Linked DNA regions of Homo sapiens. The protein of the gene in region 1 purifies or fractionates together with the protein of each later gene. This does not show direct contact. Each region holds a gene or a part of one and is shown in the gene's direction. Other genes may lie near its edges.

Region 1 (6,260 bases):
CTTATTGAGGTTTTACCAGCCTCTCGCACTGGGACTTTCTCAGGTCTACAATAAAAAAAAACACATAATAAAATGGCTTTTTCTACTGTTGAAAATGGTGATTATGAATAGGTTCAGAAACGTGGACAGAAGCCCTCAAGTGTCATTACCCAGTTTTAAAACATGATGCTGAAAAAAAGAAAGTCGTGGTTTATTTCCGTCATGGTAGGATGAAAAAGCTGCAAGATTACTGTGGATGTGTATAGTGCAAACAGGTTAACAATGCTTGTTTGGTTTGACTCACTAGGTTGGTTCGAGAAGTAATTTTCAAATAGAAGGTTTTGTTATTCAAAGAGCCTCAACGAGGTTTTAAGAAGAGATTCAAAGATAAGAAAGGGTATCAGCCTCTATTAGCCTATGTCGAGGGCAGAAACCCCTGACATGCTCAGCCAAGTGGAGGCGTTGACATCACAGATTCTATTGGGCCCAGAGTGCAAGTTTATAATTGAACAATGTAGGCAGGAAGTGAAGGCTAAGAACATACACCATCTGTTTGTTTTTAAAACTCTTTAATATGTGTCTTCAAACTGCAAAACAAGAGAATGAGAAAACACACTTTAATTCAAATCTTAATAAGAATTCTATTTCAGTAATCTGGTAAAAATAATAATAATAATAATAATAATACCTAAACATTACTGAGGGGAGTCTTTTGCTACAATGCAGTGGTTCTCAACCAGGAGCGATTTTGTCCTTCAGGAACATTTGCCAACGGCTGGAGACACCTTTAATTGTCGCAACTGGAGAGTGCTACAGGCATCCAATGGGTGGAGGCCAGGGAGGCCACTAAACGTTCTACAATGTAAAGGACAGCCTCTCACAATAAGGAATTCTCCAGCCCATAGTAGAAACAGTACCTGCCTCAATGTATGGCCAGGGTGTGCTATATTCACTTTTGGGTTTTGCCACCAAAATACTTCTATAAAACTAATATGCCAGATTCACTGTCTTTGCCAAAAATAAGACAGAAGTGACACCCTGAGAAAACAAACCATGAAAATTATTCATTCAGATGAATATCTATTTTAGTAAAACCTAATAGATTCTTAATAAAATGAGAGGTGATTTGGAAATTTTGCCCTGATAATTTGAGAGATTAAAAATACATTGTTAACGAGTACTTCCTGGCTACCCGCCCACTAATTGTATGTATCTGTGATATTCGCTCAGGCAAAAGTTTCAAAGTTTGCAAAATAACATCAGAATGATTTTGAAGACCTCTGTATCAACAGCTTACTTTTTGTTGACAATTCCCAAAGCAAGTCCTTCAATTTTACTATTAAGAAGCTTCTTATGGGTCCCCCTTCTGAAACTGCCCTTGACACGTTCCACAGCATCCTTCCAAAAAACTACTATTTCTAAATAAATTTAAAAAAATCCATGAACCACTCACATAATAATCTTAAAATACTTCAAGTATTATTAAAAATAGTGAACATTTTATGGGACTAAATTCAGTTAACCATAAGCATGTCCATCAAAAGAACAGTGTCTTCACTAAATCTACTACTAAATGAATAAGGGTTTGTGAAGATTTCTATATTAAAATTCTTCTTTCATGGAATTAATTATATTTATGGAGGGAGGAAGCAGTGTTAGTATAACCTTTTAGCCCTCATTTAGAAATAGGCTTATTATATTGAAGTCAATGATATACAGATATGTAATTCAAGCAGATTCTACGTGTATATCTACGAGTAGGGAGCATTAACCTCAAAAATAAATTCCTCATGTCAAAGGGCTACTACTCACTTGTTCCAGAAATTCATTAGCAAGTTGAAAAATAAGAATGACCCAGTCTGGTTAAAAGAAAATGCAGTCTACAGAAATGTTCATTGCATTTTCATACTTTTCCCCCCACTGGTCCAATAATAAAAATCATCATATGAATGACTGACACTTAGTAATCACCTATAATGCAGTAGGACCTACACCCCTCACTATGCCCTGTGCTGGCCATCACAGCTACCTTGCTGCATACATATTTTGCTCCAGAAAAGCAAGGCTCAGCCAAGAGTCAGCACCTGCATAACTCTAAAGTCACAGGGGACCTACAATTCAAACCCAGGCCAGCTTTGCTCCAGGACATCCACTGACATGTCATGGTCTCCATTGTAGCAAAATTCACAAGTTCAAAAGGATTTTAAGTTGTTTTATTCCTTTGTATTCTTCTTTCAACAATATCCTATTGTTCGAATTCCCAAACTCAAACAGTTTATAAACGATTGCTGTAGTTAGACTTTAATCGCTGTCCCACAGTTAATTCCACAAAGGCATTTTGCCCTGTGTAATTCCATTCTTTTCCTATTCCTGTGTCATTAGGGGAAAAAATATGTTTTTGCTTATGAGATATCTCTAGCTCAATTTCTTTCTGGTAGTGTGTCTTTGATCAGTTCAGACATTTCTCAGACTTCGTATACGCCCTCGTTTGTAGATAGCGTTATGTGTTCTCTGAAACTTTTTATTGCTTTTCAGCTTTGTGTGTGTGTGTGCACGCGCACGCGTGCGTGTGTGTAAAGAAGGAGATTAGGACATTTAGAGAAGGAGGGCGGGGAGGAGAGATCCTGAGAATAGAAAGGAGGAAAGAAAAAAAGAGGAATGGAAAGAGACAGAGAAAGGAAATGGGAGTGGAAGGAGGGAGGACTGCTTTGTAACTGCTAAGATTGCAGACAGAAATAGCACACAACCACTGTGAGCTGTATGCGATTCAGAAACCAAGACCAAATTTTGCTCACTTTCATTAATCAGTTGCTCAGATAGAAGGAAATGACATCTGGTTCTGTCTTCTTCTACATCTTAATTTTTGGAAAATATTGTAAGTATGCTCAGTATCTAATTTTGTATACCTTAGTATTTTGTGGAATAACCACAAGCACAAATGTTTACTCCTTATATTTATGCTTTTAAGATAAAATGCACTTGCTGATAAAATTGTAATCTCACTTCAGAATTGTTCTTCTTAGTATATGTCTGGTATTTGTATTAAAGACCATAATATCTTATCATAGTCAATAGTGAAGCGAGACTGATGTGCCGTGTAAACCTAGGCTTCATAATAACCAATTCATATAATTGATATTTTAAGCAACATTATAATATTTAAAGAGTAGTAATTCTTAAACTGTATTCAAGGAATATATTCATTGAAAACTCCTAGGAAAGTTCTCACATTTGTGCCAGTTTCTGTATAGTTGTAATGCTCTGTCGCCCTTATTCTTTGTCATTTGCTATCATAGGTGTGCTTCTGGGCAGGGAGATGCATTCATAAAACTCTTTTTATTTAGCAAGGTTTATCACTGTTCCTTGAAAGAAAAACAAGGGAAAGCACAAAGCAATGAAAAACATAGGCACAAAAGAAGCTCCAAATGGGCATGTTATTTTTACTATAATGACAAATTTTGTTTTCTCTGTGTGTGCTATGGTTTATTTTTCAGAAAATCTTTTTTAAATTCAAGGGAAACAGTTGTTGTGTGTTAAGCTCCATTTGAATTATAGTATGTAGACAGAAATAAAGTGTTTTTGTTTCTTAGGTAATAAATGATGAAAAAGTCAAAGCCAAACCAAGAACAAAACTTTCTGGGTATCTTTAATACTTTATGATTCCGGGAATGTGGGCTTTTACTAATTTAGAAATTAACAAGCCTTTTTATAGTCCTGTGTCTCTTAAAAGTTTGCATAAGTTTTGTTAACTCTGAGCTCTTCTATTAAGGAATGTCTCAGGGTAACTTTCAATCCTGACTCTCCCAATTGTAATATGTCAAAGTGATTATATCTTCCTTTTCCTCCTTCTTTCCTCCTTCCCTCTGCTCCATCGCATCTAAAGTTAAAGGACAGCATCAAAACCACAGAAACTATTCAGAATCCTGGGGAAATATTCTAGTCCTAGCCTTCTCCATCTCTAATCTTGATTACTGACAGTCCTATTTTTTAACTGAAGGGAAAACAATAAATTGCAAACCACCATAAAAAATGTAATGTTTCTAATTATAATTGCATGTTTAAACTACCAGAGCTTTTGACATTTGTGGCCAACAGCTTCAAAAATTAATGCCATATTTTACCATCCCTATTCCATTTCAATGAAATGAATAGATTAAATAAGCCAGAGGAATATTTCCAAAATAGTCTTTCTAGTATGAAGAATTTAAGGGTATATAAAAGGTGTTTAGGGCAGGTTGGGAAGCAACTTTGGCCACTGTGTTACCAGTCATTTCAGGTTAGGAAAAAAATTCCATGTTTACCTGTACCCTTTTGTTAATAAATTATTTTCATGAGCAGAAAATAATAATGATGGTGGTGATGATGATGCCAAAACCCTCTGTCTCTTTAAATTTAACTTCTCTTTTGATTCAAAAGAAAATTTGGGAGTGTAGTGTAAGTTGAGAGCTCCAAGTTCTCATCCTTCCACGCCTTCCCCAGGAAATGAGGGCATAAACATTTGCAGCAAAGTTTGGCAAGGCAATTCCTCGCTACATGGTATTAACTGCATGTTAGGGTGGGGGAACACTTGTCAGGGACGCCCTGAAATAGCACCCACAGCCGTGGCTCACCTTGAGTTTAGCCCCTCACCCAGGCCCCACCTAAGTGAGAATTTCCTGGGCACATAGCAATGGAAATCAACAGCCACACATAAGGACAAATTCTTAAACCTCTGTAAATGCCCCATGGTTGTTGTTTCTTTGTGTGTTTTCTTTGTTTTGTTTTGTTTTTATATCCACTTTCCTGTAACGGGAAAGGCGATGTGATATCATGGAAGACACCTAACCTAAGACGCTTAGCTGCACTACCATGTACCGGTTCTGTGGTTTTCAGCAAATGATTTACCTCTTCTGAGCATGTGAAATGGCAATCAAATCCTTTACCCTGTCTACCTTTCAGAAACCCTGTGTTCCATTCTTTATTACAAAAATTACTTCCTGAATCTTCACAACAACTCTATTATGTGGATACAATTAAGCACACGAGGTAGGACATTCAGTGCCTTGTCACAAGACTCCAGCTAATAAATGCCAAGATTGGAATGCTTTCAGAGCCCGTGCTCTCTCCCCTAGACCATGATAATTCTCAGTAGCCATAATGTGTATAAATGGGCTTTGAAAACTATAAAGCCCGTTACAGACGTAAGCAACTATTAGTCATCCTTTCAACCAAAAATACCTATGCATGCCAGAGCAGTGACCATGCTTTATTCACCTACCTTGTTAAAGTAAGCATGGTCCCTGCTCTAAAGGGATAGGATGGAGAAGACGGCACGTTGATCTAGAATTCAATTCAATAAGACAAGTGCAAAAATTGAGGTCCACACAAACAGAGGTGACATTAAGACTTAGAAAAGATTTCCTTTTAGCCTTGAGAATTTTTCATTCTTTAAAAATCCTTCTGTCCATAGTCTAATTAATTGTATTGTGCCAATGTTAATTTTTTAGTTTTGTAATGTACTAAATTTATGTAAGATTAAGGAAAGCTGGGTGAAAGGTGTATGGGACCTCTCTATACTATTTTTTCAACTTCTTGTAAGTATATATTTCAAAATCCGTGGTTAAAAAACAATCCCCAGGACAACTTGTATTATAAGTTCTTATCAGAAAATGCTGTATTATTTCTTAAATGATATCACTAAGCAAAACAATTCTTTTAATGTTTTAGATAGGCAGGAAACAAGTGAAGATATAGGAAATAGAAGGAGTTCAAACATAAGCTTGATCCACTTTAGTATTTTGCCAAGGACCGGCCCAGCTTAGTAAGGTCTTCTCTTTCAGACTCCTAGAGACACTTACCAGGCTACCTGGCCTTTGCTTTGGATCCCAGCACTGGCATAACTTGTAACAGATTTTTTCTGTAACTATGAAGAAGAGAAAAGGAAGAGACAATTCCAGAACAGACCATTAGCTTGGTTAGTACGTGGAAAAAGAGAATGTTCGCATATTTATCCAATTCCAAAAGATGGGAGAATAAACATACCAATATGCAGACCACAGAGGTATACTGTGTCCCACCTTATACTTTGGCGGGGGGGGGTTGGGTTTTTTTTTTAATTTGTATAAATTTATGGGGCATGAGTGCAATTTGGTACATGCCTAGATTGCATCGTGGTCAAGTCAGGACTTTTAGGGTAACATGCGTGGTACCAATTAAATAACTTCTCACCACCTTATATTGTGGAGGCTGCTGACAATTTTGTGTTGTTTTTACTACATATTTTGAATCATATTTTTAAGTTT
Region 2 (4,500 bases), on another chromosome or scaffold:
TGAATCTTTCATCATATGTCTTGTAATCCCTGGAGTATTTTAGAATTTCCTTCAGTGGAATCACAGCTTTCCCTCACTCTAAGTCTGATTTAGCCATTAATAGAATCCTTTAAATAGATCTCTCTCTGTTCACTTCTTCAGTTCAAACTGAGAGATGTCATCTAACCTAAGAAGAGATAGAAAGCAATTAGGAGTTAGCATCCTGGCACTCTTTTTGGGATCCTGTGTCATCATCTGGTTTGAAAAGGTAAACATCTCCAGGATATCAGCACATTCAGGGTTTGAGAATTAGCACACTGATTCATCCAAAAGCCAAATAAAATATTGTTGAGATTTTCCTATTATTCTTCTATTAGTTAAATAACCAGAGGTAATGGCAATTATATATATTTAATTAAATACATTTAACAAATGTAGTAATTTCTATTGCAATAATTTACATGTTTTCCCTTTTAAAATCTTAAACCAGGTGTGAAAATCACATCAACACTGCAAGTGTTGAAGCTTATCAAGCAGGCTGGTGACCGAGTCCTGGTGTACTATGAAAGGCCTGTTGGCCAGAGTAATCAAGGTGCAGTGCTGCAAGATAACTTTGGCCAGTTGGAAGAAAACTTTTTGTCAAGCTCATGCCAATCGGGTTATGAAGAGGAAGCTGCCGGGTTGACAGTAGATACTGAAAGTAGAGAGCTGGATTCTGAATTTGAAGACTTGGCAAGTGATGTCAGAGCACAAAATGAGTTCAAAGATGAGGCACAATCATTAAGTCATAGTCCCAAACGTGTTCCAACAACACTTTCTATTAAACCCCTTGGAGCTATATCACCAGTTTTAAACCGTAAATTAGCTGTAGGAAGTCACCCACTACCACCGAAAATTCAGTCCAAAGATGGAAATAAACCTCCACCCCTAAAAACTTCTGAGATAACAGACCCAGCACAAGTGTCAAAACCAACCCAAGGATCTGCTTTCAAACCACCTGTGCCACCACGACCACAAGCGAAAGTTCCTTTGCCTTCCGCCGATGCTCCAAATCAGGCAGAACCAGATGTTCTCGTTGAAAAGCCAGAGAAGGTGGTGCCACCTCCTCTTGTAGATAAATCTGCTGAAAAGCAAGCAAAAAATGTGGATGCCATAGACGATGCAGCTGCACCTAAGCAATTTTTAGCAAAGCAAGAAGTGGCCAAAGATGTCACTTCAGAAACTTCCTGCCCTACTAAGGACAGTTCGGACGACCGTCAAACATGGGAATCATCAGAAATTCTTTATCGTAATAAGCTAGGAAAATGGACAAGAACCAGAGCATCCTGTTTGTTTGACATAGAAGCCTGTCACAGGTACTTAAACATTGCATTGTGGTGCAGGGATCCTTTCAAGTTGGGAGGTCTCATCTGTTTGGGGCATGTTAGTTTAAAACTTGAAGATGTGGCTTTAGGATGCCTAGCTACATCAAACACGGAATACCTTTCCAAATTGAGACTGGAAGCCCCCTCACCTAAGGCTATAGTCACTAGAACCGCACTACGCAATCTGAGTATGCAAAAGGGATTCAATGACAAATTTTGCTATGGTGACATTACTATTCACTTCAAATATTTGAAAGAAGGAGAATCAGACCACCATGTAGTTACTAACGTAGAAAAAGAAAAAGAACCCCATTTGGTTGAAGAAGTTTCTGTTCTCCCTAAAGAGGAGCAATTTGTTGGACAGATGGGTTTAACAGAAAACAAACACAGTTTTCAGGATACTCAGTTCCAGAACCCAACATGGTGTGACTACTGTAAGAAAAAAGTTTGGACTAAAGCAGCTTCCCAGTGTATGTTTTGTGCTTATGTTTGCCATAAAAAATGTCAAGAAAAGTGTCTAGCTGAGACTTCTGTTTGTGGAGCAACTGATAGGCGAATAGACAGGACACTGAAAAACCTTAGGCTGGAAGGACAGGAAACCCTCTTAGGCCTGCCTCCTCGTGTTGATGCTGAAGCTAGCAAGTCAGTCAATAAAACAACAGGTTTGACAAGGCATATTATCAATACTAGTTCTCGTTTATTAAATTTGCGTCAAGTCTCTAAAACTCGCCTTTCTGAACCAGGAACCGATCTCGTAGAACCTTCACCAAAACACACACCCAACACGTCAGACAACGAAGGCAGTGACACGGAGGTCTGTGGTCCAAACAGTCCTTCTAAACGGGGAAACAGCACAGGAATAAAGTTAGTGAGAAAAGAGGGTGGTCTGGATGACAGTGTTTTCATTGCAGTTAAAGAAATTGGTCGTGATCTGTACAGGGGCTTGCCTACAGAGGAAAGGATCCAGAAACTAGAGTTCATGTTGGATAAGCTACAGAATGAAATTGATCAGGAGTTGGAACACAATAATTCCCTTGTTAGAGAAGAAAAAGAGACAACTGATACAAGGAAAAAATCACTTCTTTCTGCTGCCTTAGCTAAATCAGGTGAAAGGCTACAAGCTCTAACACTTCTTATGATTCACTACAGAGCAGGCATTGAAGATATAGAAACTTTAGAAAGTCTGTCTTTAGACCAGCACTCCAAAAAAATAAGCAAGTACACAGATGATACAGAAGAAGACCTTGATAATGAAATAAGCCAACTAATAGACTCTCAGCCATTCAGCAGCATATCAGATGACTTATTTGGCCCATCCGAGTCTGTGTAGCAGACAGGTCTATTTAAGCTTTCAAATGAACAGGGTAAAGTTGCATCTAAAGTACCACAGATACAACCATGTTTAAATCCTCGTATGCACTCTGGCCTGCTTCTCCAGTTACTTGCTTGTGTAAGAACAAAAATGAGAAAGGTTGTTTTCCAGTAAAAACATGACCAGCTTACTAATTGGTTGTTTTGGATTGCATTTATAGCTATGCTTTTTTGGGTTTATACTGGGAATTTATTTTTACTAAATTATTTAACTTTTCTAATTATGTAATTATGTAAGCTAGCTTTTCATGTTTATGTATGTATGGTGTCCCCTTGTGTTATTTTTCTTCCTCTTGGTTTTTGAATTAGTGTTAAATAGAATACTGTCTAGATTCTTAAAATATTTTCATTTCCATCATGGTTATAACAAATTTGCTGCATGCCCAAACTGACAACAGCAATCACTGAGGGAACAGGTTTTGAATCTTTCTTTTGTGTTATGAAGTTTATCGTCTCTACTTGCTTGAGATTTTTGTTATTTTGGGGGTTTGGGGGTGCTTTTTGTTTTGTTTTTGCCAAATGTAACATGAAAGCAGATGCTGCAGCTTTAGTCTGTTATGCTGATTTAGTAAAAAAAAATTTTTTACATATATTGCTTGCTTTCGATGCTTCTGTGAAATTTTTTTCTAAAGCTTTTGTGCAGCTGTATGGTAAAAATATGGTGATTAATTTGAAGAGCTTACATTGAAAGACAATGTAATAGGAAATAAATGTAGATTGCAGTTGGTCAAGAATTTTGTAGAGAGGATAACAAGACTTAATTACTGAAAAACAGTAACATAGCATTTTGAAATATAATCTTTTAAAATATTGATGCTTTCCTTTTAAATGGAAATTTAAATTTTATAATTAAAAGTTTAAACATTTATGATAATTTTCCTCATCAGTTCTCCCATAGGAAATAAAGCATGTGAAAGGGTATTTAAAGTTTTGGAGGACTCTTTTTAAAATGACTGTGTTGATAACTAGTTTGGGCTGGTTTTGTTTTAGAAAAAACATTTTCATGTAGGAGTATTCTGTGAAGGAAAGGAATCATGCAAAATATACTTTTTGCTTTGGCGTCTTACAGTTGTAAAGGAATGGTGATCATTCTGAATACTTCTGTAGTGAGTATTCATTAAGAAAAGAATGACAAAAATAGTATTCATACATAGGAATTGGGACCAGTTCTCTGAAAATGAAGATATACTCACACTGGGTCCATTTTACGGGTCCCAGTAACATTTGACTGAGGGAAAACAAGTAAGCTCGACTGTTGTTGGGGTACCTTAATGGTTTCGGTCTGTTATATACCTATAAAATAGACAAGTATATGTTTGTCCCTTTGTAGGTAACTGCTATGATGATTGCTATATAGTGAAACTGACATGAGTTTAAAACTAGATGGAGCAGCTTTTATTGCTGGCAGGAAAAAGCATGGTGTAATATTAAGGACTGGGGCCCAGGTCTAGACTCCAGGACTCCATAAAAGAGTTTAAGTTCAAGCCCTTCCATTAATGAACTGTGTAAGCATAGGCAGTTACAAAAGGACCCATCTCTAAAATGGGAATAATAATACTTTACCTCCCTCACAGTATTGTTGTGAGGGAAACAATAGCATAACTGCAAAAGTGCTTTGAACAGTAAAAAGATATACAAGTAAAAGGCATTATTTATATGAGTAAGAAAGACATTTTTGAGGGGAGAAAAGTTATTCCACTTTAAAAATCAATAGCCAAGTCTCATGCCTTTTGTTACTTTAGTAAGCGAAAATTTCAGGTACTAAATACCTTTCTTAGCCAAGTTT
Region 3 (4,500 bases), on another chromosome or scaffold:
ACTGCTCTGCCCCAGCCTGGTGGATGACCTGAGACAAGCCTCACCCCCTCCCTCTGTGGGCCTCAGTTTCCCCATCTGCAAAATGTGGCTTTGGTAGTCTGCGATATGAGTGTTTGAAATTTTGTTTATTCTGATGAAGATAAATAGGCTTCTGGAGGCGGGGGGCATGACTGGTACCCTGGGCTGTTGGGGGATGGGGAAGGAATTCCCCCAGAGGCTGGGAGTCAGGTTGGGAGAGTCAGCCAAGCCCCTGGGCTGCTGTCCAGGTTTTGAGTCTCTTGCGGATCTGCCTCCTGTTCCACTTCTGAGCCCGAGCCCCTTTCTGGGGACTGAGGGACCCCATGTGCCCACCACGAGGAGAGCAGCAGCTGAGGCGGCTGGCAGCACCTGGTGCAGCCGGCAGTGGCTTGGCTGGGAGGCCTGGAATGGCACCAGGCCAGGAGCTTCCCTCCCTGGGCTCTGACTGGAGCTCACCCACTCGCTCGCTCCCCACGGCCTCTGCATTGCAGCAGACAGGAGCCTGCGTGGGCAGCACAGGCAGGGCTGGGGAGGGAGCCAGGACCTGGGCTGAGGGTGTCCGACCATCCTACCCACTTCCCCTTGCCCTTGACCCTGCTTGGCCCTGACCGTCTTTGGAGGGGCAGCTGCTGACTAAGCAACTGTCATCTCTGCGATGGGCTTCGGTGTGCCTGGAGGTGTGGGGGTGAAAGCAGGGCCCAGGCTTGGAGGTTGTTATATCCCCCCACTCCATTCCCCCTCTGCATCTCAGACCCCTTCTCAGCATTAGTAGGGGTTGTGCCTACCTCCTGGAGAGGCTGTTTTGAAGGGTTGGAGCTATGGAGTTGAGAGTACAGATTTTGGAACTGGACGGCCAGGGTTCACATCCCAGCTTGTGACCCAACTCTGTGGGTCACCTAGCTCTGTGACCCAGGGCAGGTCACTTAATCTCTCTGTTCCTCAGTTTTCCTAACTGTAAAATGGGGATAATGATAGGACCTACTTCATAGGGCTCTGGTGAGTGCTGACGCATGTAAGTGCCTGGAGCCAATGTCAGCTGGCACCAGCTGCTGTCATTGCCAGCAATTAGCCTCAGCAGTCTTATCACCTCTGCCACACGGCCCAGCCCTCTGCTGGGGACCCTTTTCCTTAGATGAACACTTCCCGGTAGCATTTTCCTTCACTCTGTCACCCAGGCTGGAGTGCAGTGGCGCAATCTCGGCTCACCGCAACCTCCACCTCCCAGTTTCAAGTGATTCTTCTGCCTCAGCCTCCTGAGTTGCTGGGGTTACAGGCGTGCACCACCATGCTCGGCTAATTTTTGTATTTTTAGTAGAGACGGGATTTCGCCATGTTGCCCAGGCTGGAATCGAACTCGTGAGCTCAAGCTGTTGCCCATCTTGGCCTCCCAAGAGGCCCAGATGGGATTACAGGTGTGAGCCACCATGCCTGGCCCCTGGTAGCATTTTCTATATTGAATGTTATCTTAGTTTAGGGGTGAAGAACACAGATTCTGGGCTCAGACACCTATGAATCCACATCCCAGCTCTGCTATTCAGAAGCTGTGTAATCTTGGGCAAATTCTTCACTTCTCTGGGCCTCAGTTTCTCCATCTGTTAAGTGGAAGGGATGACAGTGCACATCTCACAAAGTTGCTGTGAGGATTAAATAGGTGGGGCCACCTGGATTTGAAGCACATGGTGCAGGGCAGGGCTCACAGGAAGTGCAGTGTTACATCCCTGTCTGCTTGTAGTTATTAGACAACTGCTTTGTGCCAGGCATGCAGTAGACAGGTGGAGAGGCAGATGCTGGGGTCCTACACTCACTGACTGCCTCAAGTCATCCTGGCTTGGGCCCTTGTTGGCTGAATGTCTGGATCAGGTGGTTTTGTCTCTCTGTGCCTCAGTTTCCCTAACTGTAAACGGGAATATGGAAACCCTGGCCTCGTGGGACTGTGTGAGGTTCCAGTCATGCCACAGTGTGAGCGGTTTGGGCACCTGGGCGCCAGAGCTTCGGGGAGAGGATCTCTCTCAGGATGGCCCCTTCCCAGCCACGACAGTCATCCCCGCTGTCACCCAGCGCCTCACCCCTCCTCTTGGGGGATCTAGAGCCCAGCCCATTTTGCAGATATGACAACAAAAGGCCCACGGGAGGAAGGACTGGAGCTGAGACAGGAGGTAGCACCCAGGGACACACCCCAGCCCGGTCCTAACCCTACCGTGGACAAGCCCCACTCACAAACTCAGGCCTCCAGGCCCACTTCCCGGGTGTCCCTGCGGCTCTGGGGGAGTCCTGAGGGACCCAGTGCCGGGAGATGCCTTGGATAAAGCAGACATCAAGATTCAGAAAACCAAAGGGGCCTAGGGCTGGGCACGAGGGCCAACCTGGGCAGGAGGAAAAGATTCTGGAAACTTCCAAGCAGATGCCAAGGTTTCTGGATTGCTGTGTGGCCTGCAAGCCACCCCCACAGCTGTCAAGTTCCCTCTTAGACCAAAATAGTTTATTTGGGGTTGCAGAGATAGAAGGCCTGACGTGGGAGGAGAAAAGTGGACAAACATTTATTAAGCACACACTGTATATGGTTGATTACAATCAGCAGCAATTATGCACCAGGCACTCTGCCCAGAACTGACACATTGAACCTCACACTCACATTTTGCAAATGAGGAAACAGGTTCAGAGAAATGAGTAGTGGTAGTAAAGACAGCGGCTGTTTATTAAACTCTGCTTATCTCAGCTTCGTCCTCACTATGGATGCAAAATCCTCCAGATACTCCCCACCCTCTCTGATCTCATGGGGCCTTGCTGCCTTCCCAAGGGGCACTCCTGCCTTGGGGCTCTGGCACTGTTTCACCTGTGCCAAGTGCTTTTCCCCAGATAGCCACTTGGCAGACTTCCATAACTCTTTCAAGTCTTGCTCAAGTGTTACCTACCCAGCGAGGTCTTCTCTGGCCCCCTATTTAAAATTGATCTCTGGCCCCGCACAGTGGCTCACGCTTTTGATCCCAGACTTTGGGTTACTGAGGCATGTGGATCACTTGAGGTCAGGAGTTTGAGAACAGCCTGGCCAACATGGTGAAACCCCGTCTCTACTAAAAAAAATACAAAAAGTTAGCTGGTCATGGTGGTGGGGTACCTGTAGTCCCAGCTACTTGGGGGGCTGAGGCAGGAGAATCGCTTGAACCAGGGAGACGGAGGTTGCGGTGAGCCGGGATCGCACCACTGTACTCCAGCCTGGGCGACAGAGCAAGACTCTGTCTCAAATAAATAAATAAATAAAATAAAATTGATCTCTGTCTTCCCCCACCCCTATCCTATTCACCCTCACCCCATCCTATTTACCCCCCTCTTTTTTCCACCACAACCCTTATCTCTTTTTTTAATTAAAAAAAATTTTTTTTTTTAGAGATAGGATCTTGCTGTCACCAGGGCTGGAGTGTAGTGGCATGATCATAGCTCACTGTGGCCTCGAACTCCCAGGCTGAAGAAGCGATCCTCCCATCTTGGCCTCCCAAGTAGCTTGGACTACAGGAGCATGCTACCACACTCAGTTAATGTTTGTTTGTTTGTTTGTTTGTTTGCTTTTTAAAGACAGGGTCTCACCCTGTTGCCCAGGCTGCTCTCCAACTCCTGGCCTCAAGGGATCCTCCAACCTTGGCCTCACAAGACACACATTATTTCCTTATTATCTTTTTTTTTTTTTTTTGAGATGGAGTCTCGCTCTGTCACCCAGCTAAATTTTGTATTTTTAGTAGAGATGGGGGTTTCACCATGTTGGCCAGGCTGGTCTTCAACTCCTGACCTCAGGTGATCCACCTACCTCGGCCTCCCAAAGTGCTGGGATTACAGGCGTGAGCCCATTTCCTTATTATCTGTCTCCTGCATGAGTATGTCATCTCCAGGAGAGCAGGGATCTTTGTTCTTTTTGTTCATGACAAAGAACAAAGAACAGCACCTGGCCGCAGTGGGCACTCAGTAAGTATCCCTTGAATGAGTGGAATCTTAGTACCCGGGAAGTTGATATTGCCATTTTACAGATGAGAAAACTAAGGCTCAGAGATGTCAAGTGACTTTCTCAAGGTCACACAGCCAGCGAGTGGCAAACCTGAACCCCTTGTGCTGATGTTTGCTGTTGTCCCTACAGGCCTGGCCTCGCCCTGTGGATGATGATGGCCTTGCCCCCGTGAGCTACAACCTGGCCTTCAGCACCCGCCCACCTCCAACCAGCAGGATGCGGCTGTGGAAGGCGGTGGTGGTGACTTTGGCCTTCATGAGTGTGGACATCTGCGTGACCACGGCCATCTATGTCTTCAGCCACCTGGACCGCAGCCTCCTGGAGGACATCCGCCACTTCAACATCTTTGACTCGGTGCTGGATCTCTGGGCAGCCTGCCTGTACCGCAGCTGCCTGCTGCTGGGAGCCACCATTGGTGTGGCCAAGAACAGTGCGCTGGGGCCCCGGCGGCTGCGGGCCTCGTGGCTGGTCATCACCCTCGTGTGCCT
Region 4 (5,004 bases), on another chromosome or scaffold:
TTCTGTCATCCAAATAATACAGTTAGACTGTAACTATAAATATTAACTTGGAACATTACAAATAAAATTAATAGAATCATTTTAATAGGAGATGATAAGGTCTAAAATATAAACCAGATCTCTCTCTCTATCTCTATCTGTATAAACTAATAATGTAGCAATATTACTTTCTTATTTAGCAAAGTAATTACAAAAGTTCGTGCTAAATTATGATTTCATAAACAAACACATACCACAGGAGTGCAAGCATGGATGGAAAAAAACATGCTTAATTTCCTAGATTTAATAGCTTTTAATGCAACTCCACACCTATTTGTTGAAATGTGGCTATTTTGAAGGTCCCGTGCTAGAGGCAGCTAAGCCACAGGGAGAGGGGAAGAGTTGAAAGAAAAACGCACAGATAATCGTATAGCGGGTCAGGTTATAGTAAGCATTCCAGGCAAAATACTCACATGGGTTATGAAGGGTTCAAACAAAGGGGTTCAAAGGAAGAAGACATCATAAGAAGCTGGAAAAACCAAGAAATCTAATGGAGGATATGTAATTTGAGATGGGTCTGGAAGGATGAGTAGGATTTTGAAGACAGAGACAAACAGTATGACTTTTATTTCAACTGCTATTCTTCAGGTTTCAGTAGTCATTGTATTTCATTTGATGTTACAAGTTTTGGTAATTTCTTCCTTCATTTCTAGCTTCTTAAATAAACCCTCTGCTACATGACCTCTACTGAGCATTAATCATGCCAAATTAATCACTATTTTCTGGATAAGCCAAATATTCTAAAAAATCCCTATGCCTCTACTCATACTATTCTCTCTGCTTGCTTCACCTTTGCTCTTTTCCCTAAAGTAGGCTGCGAACGAATATAGAAGGCTTGGTTCATTTTCAATGTCTTCCTTGACCCCCACCTCGAAGAAGTATGTGTACCTCACAGGTATTTCCAAATCCCTCTGTATGTTCTTTGATTATTGTCTCTCACATCGTATCCATTTATCAAGGAACAAGCTTGTTCCTCCACACAGAGCGGTTCTTAAGTAAGGGCAGGAGAAGCCATATGGTTATCCTCCGGCCCAGGCTGTCAGGTGGTTGGTATTCGGTCTGTATATACTCTGATGCAATCAGTTTTTGAAGGAAAGAACGGTAAGCGCAAATAGAACCATAGCTTGTGTAGCAGGGTTCATGTAAGCAGTGGTTCTTACTGAAAAACAGACCCTGTTCTCTCGGGCTCACTTCTTCCTCCGTGTGAACCACTAATAGGAGGGGACCGAAGGCTGAGGCCAGGCCACCTGGAAGCCCACAACGCTGCTAGTAGCAGCGACAGCAGTAACAGCAACTCACCACTGTAAAATCCTCAGTGCGTTTCCATGTGCTTTCCCTGTCATCTAAATGCTTCTCTTCAGCGGCCTAAGGTGGCCCTTCTTTTTCCCCGAGTTCAGGGAAACACCTCCCTTCTTTCAGAATGTGAGAAAAAAATGGGATTTTCCTGGGGCTGAGAGTGGGGATTCCCTTTCCAGAAACGTGCAATTTTTTCATCCCGCCCACCTGGACTGAAGGCAATCAAAGCGAGGGAGCTCGTGGCATAGTGGAACACTCCAAGCACCCTGGCCCCCCTCCTCCCAGAGAAGGGTCTGGAGCCCCGCAATCCGCTAATTAGCTCGCCCCCATTGGTTGTCCCCAAGGCACCCCCGTGCCGTCACTGTGCTATGCTAATGAGGGGGAGTCTCATTGGCTGGGCCTCCAGCTCCATCTCCACAGGGAGATTGCGGGGAGAGCCGGGTTGGCCGCGTCTGGGGCCGAAACCCACCGCCCCCGATTCCCGCCAGCTCAGGGCTGTGCCGGATGCAAGCCCGCCCGAGGGAACAGTAGCCGGGAGGCTGCCCTCTGGGAGGATCTGGCAACTGCCTTTAAGGAAAGTGCTTCACCATCAAGCGGCGCTCACTCCCACCCCTCTCCCCTCTTTCTAGGCACCGCGCGTCTTTTTCGGCGAAGTAACTTTTTATACCCGCCTCCCCCTAGTCCTGGGGACCAGAGGCGGTGCCGAGCCTGGGGGCGGTTCCTTGGCAGCGTTGATTCTTGTCAGAGCCAGACTTTTGCTCCTGGGTTGGGTTTGCATCATCCCCATTACACCCTCGGGAAAGAGGAGCCAGCCCCCTTTCAAGCCTTAGCTTCCGGCTCCAAGCGGACCCCCTCCCCCTCCCTGTCCCCTTCCCCTTCTCCCATCCCTCTCTCGGCCACAGCGTCTTGTTAGTCCTCTCCCTGTACTCCGCAATATTTTCTTTCTTTCTCCCTCCTCTCCTCCATTTGTTGTTTGATGTTTCCCACTCTTTGAGGAAGGATGGTTGATTTGGAGAGCGAAGTGCCCCCTCTGCCTCCCAGGTACAGGTTTCGAGATTTGCTGCTAGGGGACCAAGGATGGCAAAACGACGACAGGTGAGTGGTGTGGTGGAGGATTGTTCTGTAAATATTGCTGAAAAAGAGACGGAAATGGGAGGGCCGAAGTGGGGAAAGGAGGGAGAAAAGGAAAACGGAGCCAGAGAGGGAGACTAGGCTGGGGGAGGGAGTAAAAGAGACTCTGATTTGTCTCTCCATTTTGACTCTATATAACTGTTGCTATAGATAAGGAACTCTTTTTCTTTACACTTTTCTTATTCTTGCAAGGTATTTATTGCATTCATTTGGTGCTTATTCTTTTGTCTATCTGTGCTTTTCTAGGATGTGTATAAGGCTGGTATCAGAGGTACAATACACCCAAATGGTATGCAATATCATTTCCAGAAAATTTGCATTTTTTCCTTAGGTGTGGTTAATCAAACTCAAAATTGCATGCAAGTTGTTTGAAAAAGCACATTAGAAACTTAAAATCTCCTGAGTCTATTTACCTCCTCCTTGTCTGTGTTGTCTTGAGTAGGTATCTACTTGGCACTGGAAATTTTATGCTGTTTAAACATTTTGGAGTTTTAAGTAGACAATTGGTTTAAATATGTAACAGGTAGTTAGTGAAAATGACAACCTTTTTAATACAATATACTCACTTTGAACAGGTGACTCTGACCATTATGAATAATGATGTTTGTATAACATGATACAACCTTTTCATAACTAGTATATTTTTTTAACTGAAACAGAATATATGTCTCAAAATTAAAATTAAGTTTCAAAACTAGAATATTTATTGTTAGCAAAATATTGTTCATGTGTTTTATTTATAGCATTACTGCTTTGCACAAACTTCTGAAATTCCTCTGTCTATTTCTGTCTCAAGCACATTTTGTATTTCAGCGAATTTAGTATTTTCTGGAATAGTCATCCCATATATCACATGCCACATTTCTTTGTTTTAAAATAATACATGTATACTAACTAGGTTCTCAACTCAATTGAAATGTTTCATTGAAGTTTAGTTTAGTATTGATGTGCTATTTTAGTTATATAAAAGATCCATTATTGGTCCAATCCAAAATCCCCTCCTCATTCACCACTGACCAATACACTCTATTTCTTTTCTTCACCTTTTCAGCTCCCAATACCAACTCCTGTCTCTACACACTGAGGATTTTATCTTGAGCATCAATTATGGGCATCTTGTTTGGTCTCATATTAGTAATTTGAAAGGAGATGGATGTTTTGTAGAGGATATTTTGGTTCAATCTCTTTTTTAGGCAAAACCACACATATTGGCTAAAAATTTAAAGAAGTAATACCAATTTCTCAGTATTCTTGTAAAGTGTTTGGGTAAACTGAAGATAAAGAAAATAATTTTTAAGTGAATTTGTAATACAAATTGACATTTAGATAAACTGCATTAGCCTGGTTAAATGGCTTAGTAAGTGTAGCATGGTGTTCCTAGTGACTGAATGTATATTTAGTTCAGGACCTCAGGATCATTATATAGAATAGAAATCCTCTTTGTAGAAAGTGTGAGATAGATTAAACACATAAAGCACATACTTTGGTTATAGTGATGGTATTGTTGTTTGTTTGTTTTAAATATCATATCCAATATGTTAATTTTCATGTGGTTGCCCTCATTTTTCTAAGGATGCTGCAGAAATATTTTAGTAATTAAGAATTTTGGTTAGTTGAACACTGCCTAAATGGATCAGTGCCATATTAAAAAAGTTTTGCAGAATGGTTAAAATTTTATGTTCTATTAAAAGGTTATGCTAGCCCAACTTTAACTTAAAAAGCAGGCCACATTTACTACTAAAATAAGTTATTAAATATTTAAAACAATCATTCAACCATTTTTAAGGATTTGGCTACTTTTGTGGCTTCATGGAAAACTATTCTTTGGTTTTGGTTCCATTTGTTGTTAATCTTTGAAGGCAAGATACTTGGAATCAGAGAAACCCAGATTCAGTCCTTGGCTGTTTCCTTCACTAGCTGAGTGGCCTTGGGAAAGTCATTCAGCCATTATGAGATTCAGCAATATTATTTTTTATAATGGGAATTATACTGTCTACCTTATAAAACTGTGACAAGAGGAAGGATGGAGAGGCGCAGAACTAACATTTAGTTGGAAATAAGTACTCCCAAGTTCTTTTAACTGTGCGGTATGTTCTTTCTTAGTTAATCCTCAGACAAACTCTGAATAGCAGGCAATTATGTTAGGCACAAGGAAACTGAAATTTTGGTAAATTAAATACGTGTCTTGGATATTATATCTTATCAGTGTAAAGATAACTCTTCAGTTCAGTTTATTATTATTCAAATCCCTCAAGAAATTCTTAAGTTCTTTTCACTTAATTTATTTGAACTTATAAGAATAATTTACAGCACCTAGCATAGTTTAGGTGCTCATTAAATATTAGTTCCCTTCTTCACTTCTGATTTGCCCTTTGCAATCCTTTTTTTCTCCCTTTTCAGACTCCTAAGCTAATATGTGGTAGGTAAAGTCATCTTCCTTGTCTATAATATGGTGACAAATTCCTCTTTGCAATTACGCCTGGATAGCAATCTCATTCTACTCAGTTATCTTCTTGGACTCAATTCTTATAGAGTTGA

Evidence for each region. The genes of interacting proteins can lie anywhere in the genome.
Region 2: the proteins of RXFP1 (region 1) and PDZD8 purify together in Homo sapiens (affinity purification with mass spectrometry; one large-scale study listed by BioGRID and IntAct). This does not show direct contact.
Region 3: the proteins of RXFP1 (region 1) and ABCB9 purify together in Homo sapiens (affinity purification with mass spectrometry; one large-scale study listed by BioGRID and IntAct). This does not show direct contact.
Region 4: the proteins of RXFP1 (region 1) and KCNT2 purify together in Homo sapiens (affinity purification with mass spectrometry; one large-scale study listed by BioGRID and IntAct). This does not show direct contact.

What each region holds. Positions count from the first base shown.
Region 1 is NC_000004.12:158,519,172-158,525,431, forward strand, and holds the start of RXFP1 (relaxin receptor 1 isoform 1 precursor), read left to right. Parts: upstream 1-2,710; 5' UTR 2,711-2,805; coding exon 2,806-2,854; intron 2,855-6,260. UniProt on the Homo sapiens protein: Receptor for relaxins. The activity of this receptor is mediated by G proteins leading to stimulation of adenylate cyclase and an increase of cAMP.
Region 2 is NC_000010.11:117,281,441-117,285,940, reverse strand, and holds part of PDZD8 (PDZ domain-containing protein 8), read left to right. Parts: intron 1-141; coding exon of another isoform or gene 142-170; exon of another isoform or gene 171-247; intron 248-469; coding exon 470-2,673; 3' UTR 2,674-4,500. UniProt on the Homo sapiens protein: Molecular tethering protein that connects endoplasmic reticulum and mitochondria membranes. PDZD8-dependent endoplasmic reticulum-mitochondria membrane tethering is essential for endoplasmic reticulum-mitochondria Ca(2+) transfer.
Region 3 is NC_000012.12:122,959,964-122,964,463, reverse strand, and holds part of ABCB9 (ABC-type oligopeptide transporter ABCB9), read left to right. Parts: intron 1-4,141; 5' UTR 4,142-4,228; coding exon 4,229-4,500. UniProt on the Homo sapiens protein: ATP-dependent low-affinity peptide transporter which translocates a broad spectrum of peptides from the cytosol to the lysosomal lumen for degradation.
Region 4 is NC_000001.11:196,605,641-196,610,644, reverse strand, and holds the start of KCNT2 (potassium channel subfamily T member 2), read left to right. Parts: upstream 1-2,204; 5' UTR 2,205-2,335; coding exon 2,336-2,430; intron 2,431-5,004. UniProt on the Homo sapiens protein: Sodium-activated and chloride-activated potassium channel. Produces rapidly activating outward rectifier K(+) currents. Contributes to regulate neuronal excitability.